Linked DNA regions of Homo sapiens: region 2 is linked to region 1. The links come from fine-mapping of genetic effects on gene expression. A gene starts in region 1. The other region holds a variant in brackets. All regions are shown on one strand. Distances are between the middles of the regions. Region 1 holds the start of ATF5 (activating transcription factor 5). Region 2 has its middle 1.6 kb from the start of IL4I1.

Region 1 (3,011 bases):
TGCCCTCCACTCCCCAGCTCCACCTTCCACCTGCCCTTACCTGCCAGGGGCTCTCCCCCCACTGGAAGCCCGCCCTCCAGGGCTCCCCCAAGGACCTCATAGGGAGCCAGGGGGGCAGGGGCCGGGGGGAGTTTCCCATAGTCTACGAGCCATCCCAGCCCACTAGCTGGGAGCAGGGCCCTGTCCAGCTCCAGCCCCAGGGTCGCCAGGAGTGACATGGCTGTAGCACAGGTGCTGGGCACTGATGGCAACAGGAGAGGCTGCACCAGCAGCTGGCACGAGGCTCTGGAGGATGCTCAGGTGGGCGAAGACAGGCACCAAGGCGAAAGTGGAAGACCTACACGCGTGAGACAAGAGTGGGTGTGGTCAGGACAGCGTCATCCACCGGCCAAAATCAAGGGGAAGCCAAGCCACACCCCCAGGCACGTCCATGAGGCTCCTCCCTCCCCCTTCCAACCACCGTTTAGAACACTAAGCCTCAGCCTCTCCGAATTCTAAATTTGCCCTTTCTTTACCCAAATCTCTGAGCCCCACCCACTCCCAAGGGAATTTCTTTAGGTCCTAAAGTAGGACCGATGCCCCACCCCTTCCCCCAATACAGAAAAAAAAAACCTAAAGGTCTCCCAGGGGAATTACCTTAGGCCCCTCCCATCCACCTCAGAATATTTCGCCTCAAGGAAAAACTCAATCCCAGGGACATTTTCTTCCAGCCACGCCCCTTCCTCTAAAATATTTCCTTTTGGCCCCACTGCCTTCCTAGCTTCCATCCCAAACCAGTTCCCAGGGGAACTGCCCCAGGCCGCAGCCCTTCAGCAATGTTATCCACTCAAATCCCACTCCTCGCTCTGCCGCTGCCCCTCCAAGCCCCGCCCCTCATTGTTTATTTAGCTCCGCCCCTCCCCCGATTCCCCAGAGGCCCCGCCTCTTTGTCACATCGAAACCCCACCCCTCAACTAACGGTTGGTTTAGCCCCGCCCCTTCTCACAATGTGCTTCCGAAATCCCACCCATCGTGACGACAGTGGTTCTATCCCCACCCACTTAGAGGGTTGCCTCTGGGTCCCGCCTTCTGCCCTGTCAATCTAAGCCAGTCCCCGCCTCAGCAGGTGCCTGGTTTAAAAGGAAGGAAGCTGGGCTGTGAGCCAGAGCAACGTGGGGCAGGGAGGGTGGAGGAGGGTAGAGGGGGCACGCGGAGAACGGCTACCCGAACGCCACCCGTCCACACGCGGCTCTGCGCCGAGGGCCAAGGCGCATGCTACGTCGCCCGAGCGGTCCAATTGCCTTTACACCTCCGCCCTCTTGGGGATCAATGCGCATGTGCGGCCATTCAGGGTCCGCAGCTCTTTCACTACGGGGCACTGGTGGGCTACTGCGCAGGAACAACCAAGCACGAAGAATCGTTTAGAAAAAAAAAAAACACACCCTCCCCTGGAGTGCTCAGGCCCAGCTGCACGCGGGCTGACAAACATCGAGTCTAGAACTCTCCCACCCGGCCCCGGGCCCAGTGCGCATGCGCAGCCGCGCGCCTTCGGCCCACCGTACTACTTCTGCGCCTGCGCGACCGTGATTCCCCGCTCGCGACTCCCCACCCCCCAGGGCTCCCTAAAGAGGGCCACGAGCTGCGAAAGGGCGGGAAAGGCAGTTGGAGAAGAGGTAAGCGGTTACTCACTCCATGGCTGCAGCAAGGAGAGGCGGCGGCGGCCTCGGCTGAAGAAAGAAGGTGGGAGCGGAGAGCGCAGGCGTGGTGAGCGCGGAGACGGGCCGGGGGCACAAAGGGGTCGAGGCTACAGAGCCATGGCCGGGGCTACGCAGGCAGAGGCGGCGACACTGTAGTGAGAAGAGACTGTGATCCGAGGACAGGGAATGAGGCGGCCCCGGGGACTGGGGACAGATATATACTGGGTGGCGGAGCACGGCCCTCCCGGATCCTTCCGCGCCCCGCCCTCGCGCGGCCCCAACCGGGAGGCAGCCGGGTCCCCTCCTCCTGGGGATCAGGGGATCCGAGCCTTTCCTTCCCACTCCTAGGGTCCGGGACCCTCCTCCCTCTCAGCTGGGGATCCGACCTCTTCCCTCTGAGCCGGGGATCCAGCCCTCTCCTTGTGGCTCCGGGGTCTGGTTTCCTCCTCCTGACTCTAAGCTCTGGTTTCTTTCTCTTTCTGCCTCTGAGGTCTGGGCCTGCTTCCTCCTGTGATTTTGAGGATCCAGCCTCATTCTCTTCCCGCAGACCTGCACCAGTTCATTTCTCTTTCCCTTTCCTTGCTTGCAGAATTTCCTGCCAGTCACTTTTCACTTCTTCATCCCCCAGCTGCTGACTCTGAGAAACCCTCGTGGGTTAGAGTCCAGCATGAGTCACAGCACTCTCCCAAATACAGACCTGCCAGGATGGCCTCGGGCAAATAACTTAAGTTCTCTTACTTCATTTCCCTATCTGTAAAATAAGAAAAATCAACTCGCCTGGTGGGTTTATGAGACTCAAATAAGACGATGTCTGGCAAGCCTTATGCACAGAGCTCAACTCATACATTCCTGTTCAACTGTTTTTTTTTTTTGAGACGGAGTCTCTCCGTCTCTGTCGCCCAGGCTGGAGTGCAGTGGCGCGATCTCGGCTCACTGCAAACTCCGCCTCCCAGGTTCACGCCATTCTCCTGCCTCAGCCTCCCGAGTAGCTGGGACTACAGGCGCCCGCCACCACGCCCGGCTAATTTTTTGTATTTTTAGTAGAGACGGGGTTTCACTGTGTTAGCCAGGATGGTCTCAATTTCCTGGCCTCGTGATCCGCCCGCCTCGGCCTCCCAAAGTGCTGGGATTACAGGCGTGAGCCATCGCTCCCGGCCTCAGCATATTTTATTAATAGGAACTCTGGGGCCCAGTCTCATTTCTTCCTTACCACTTGTAAGAGCCGCAGACGTTGGACTGTCCAACACCTGCTGTCATTCTTCTGTCTCCCTCATCCCTCTAAAGTGTCTGTTTCCAGCTATCCTCATCTTCCATTCCAAATGATGGGTGCCCAGG
Region 2 (2,755 bases), 31 kb after region 1:
CTGGGCAGCATAACAAAATCCCATCTCTACAAACAGCACAGAAATTAGCCAGGTGTGGCCGGGCGAGGTGGCTCACGCCTGTAATCCCAGGACTTTGGGAGGCCGAGGCGGGCAGATCACAAAGTCAGGAGATTGAGACCATCCTGGCTAACACGGTGAAATCTCATCTCTACTAAAAATACAAAAATTAGCCGGACGTGGTGGCAGGTGCCTGTAGTCCCAGCTACTCTGGAGGCTGAGGCAGGAGAATGGCGTGAACCCAGGAGGTGGAGCTTGCAGTGAGCCAAGATAGCGCCACTACACTCCAGCCTGGGTGACAGAGTGAGACTCCGTCTCAATTAAAAAAAACAAAAAAAACAAAAAACAGGTGTGGTAGTGCACTCCTGTAGTCCCAGCTACTAGGGAGGCTGAGGTGGGAGGATTGCTTGAGCCCGGGAGGTTGAGGCTGCAGTGAGCCGAGATTGTGCCACTGTGCTCTAGCCTGAGTGACACAGCAAGACCCCATCTCTCAAAACAACAACAACAACCACCCAGAAGTCCCCCAAGGTGAGCTGCACATATGCCTGGGGCCAGAGGAGTTTTGTGCAACAACCCTCTGTGATAAGGACAAGGGGATTGGTGCAGGGCCCCACCCACTCTGGGGACCCAAAAACTCCTGGGACATGCCCTGGGAGCCAGTTGGCTGTGGGCCTCCACACCTTTCCATGGTTGTTTCCACTGTTATGCGGCTGTAGGACTGAACAAGCTATTGGGCAGGGGCCGGGGACCTGGGGCCCACCCGACCTGGTGAGGAATGCCAGCACTGCCATTCCCCACTGTGGGACCCAGGTCGAGGCACAGGCGAATAAGGCCCCAATCCCGCCGCGTTCATACTTGACATGTCGCTGTGAATGAAACTCTGAGACCTAGGCCAAGCCTTTTCCCCTCTCTGTGCCCCAGGGTCCTCCTGTCCCACCCTCTCGCCATCTCCAAGCCTCAGTTTCCTCAACTATCAAATGCAGGCATTGTTGTTGGTTTTTTGTTTGTTTGTTTGTTTGTTTTTGAGACGGAGTCTCACTCTGTCCCCCAGGCTGGAGTGCAGCGGTGCAATCTCGGCTCACTGCAACCTCTGCCTCCCGGGTTCAAGCGATTCTCCTGCCTCAGTGTCCCGAGTAGTTGGGATTACAGGTGTGCACCACCACGCCTGGCTAATTTTTTATATTTTTGGTAGAGACAGGGTTTCATCATTTTGGCCAGGTTGGTCTTGAACTCCTGACCTCAAGTGATCCGCCCACCTCAGCCTCCCAAAGTGCTGGGATTACAGGCGTAAGCCACTGTGCCTGGCCTCAAATGCAGGCATTGTGAGGCTTACGATGGGTGCAAAGCCCTGAGCACCAGGCGGCCTCCAAGGCAGGTGATCGCCATGGGAACATTTTTGTCACTATTTTTTTCTTTTTTAGAGAAAGGGTTTCGCCATCTTGGCCAGGCTGGTCTCGAGCCCCTGGGCTCAAGCAATCCTCCCACCTC[G/A]GCCTCCCAAAGTGCTAGGATTACAGCAGTGAGCCTCCGCACCCGGCCCTCATTACTATTTTTTATTTTTATTTTTTATTTTTTGAGATGGAGTCTGGCTCTGTCACCCAGGCTAGAGTGCAGTGGCACGATCTCAGCTCACTGCAACCTCCACCTCTTGGGTTCAAGCAATTCTCCTGTCCCAGCCTCCTGAGTAGTTGGGACTACAGGCGTATGCCACCATGCCCGGCTAATTTTTATATTTTTAGTAGAGACGAGGTTTTGCCATGTTGGCCAGGCTGGTCTTGAACTCCTGACATCAGGTGATCCGCCTGCCTCGACCTCCCAAAGTGCTGGGATTATAGGCGTGAGCCACCCCTGGCCCTCGTCACTATTTTTGCTGACCCAAGCTCTTTCGGTCCCTGAACTCTCCAGCTCTTTGATCATTTCCCTTTGCCACGGCCTCCCGCCCCTGCGTCACATGCCTTGTTACTCACATTCACCCCCCAGCCCCTCCCGGCCATAACCGCATCCCTCTTTGATTTACTGCGGGAGTTTCCCATCTTCCTTCTTGTTAATGCCCTCCAACCCCCACCCAACCCTTGCTGCAGAGAATCTGCCTCCCTCTGGTTTTCCTCCTCACGGAGCCCCTGGCTCCCTCTCCCCCACCCCAAGGAAAGTCCCTGCTATTGTTTCTCCACCCCCACCCACTCCAAGGTGCCGCCCCACTCCCTGCCCTGAGCACTGAGGTGGTTCTTAAAGCAGGGATGGGTGAAGCCTGGGCGCTTCCCTCTGCCGGGTGGTCACTCATAGAACCCCTGAGTGCCCCTGCGGCCACAGCAGCTGGCATTTCCAAAGGAGCAGCTTCCAGTACTACCCCAGGTTCCGGCCACAGAACTTAACCTGGATTCACTCACTTGATCCTAAAACACTGTGACGTCTGTAGACGTCATTTGACAGCTGTAGACGAGAGCCACAGAGGGGAGGGCGGGCTCAGAGCCCACGTCCTGACCCCGGGACCACGGCTGCCAGCCCCACTGCTACACCCATGTAACGGAGGGGGAGACTGAGGCTCTGGGTGGCAAGTGGAGAGGGAAGTGGAACCATGGGGGGCCCTGCAGGACATGGCGACACCTGACGGAGAGGGACTTGGAGGGGAAAGTTGGCCTGGCCCAGGGACCTGTAGCCCCTCTGTCCCCGTGGGAATCAAGGAGGCAGAGAGAGTGCAGGGGAGGATAGAAACAAGTGGCCTGGTGATCAGGGACGGGGG

Evidence for each region.
Region 2: its variant is fine-mapped to the expression of ATF5 in whole blood (INTERVAL, PIP 0.96).

What each region holds. Positions count from the first base shown.
Region 1 is chr19:49,928,058-49,931,068 of GRCh38, reverse strand. ATF5 (activating transcription factor 5) reads right to left here and starts at 1,864. Exons shown (of 3, transcript NM_001193646.2): 1 at 1,669-1,864; 2 at 41-337. The coding sequence starts at 218. NUP62 (nucleoporin 62) reads left to right here and starts at 1,565. Exons shown (of 3, transcript NM_016553.5): 1 at 1,565-1,743. It also overlaps a transcript of IL4I1 not described here. RefSeq lists silencers at 1,075-1,124, 1,975-2,034.
Region 2 is chr19:49,897,156-49,899,910 of GRCh38, reverse strand. It overlaps a transcript of IL4I1 not described here. Among named protein-coding and RNA genes, the nearest start is that of IL4I1, 1.6 kb to the right of the region's middle. RefSeq lists an enhancer at 1,915-2,094. The variant G/A (reference allele first, on the strand shown) is at 1,507.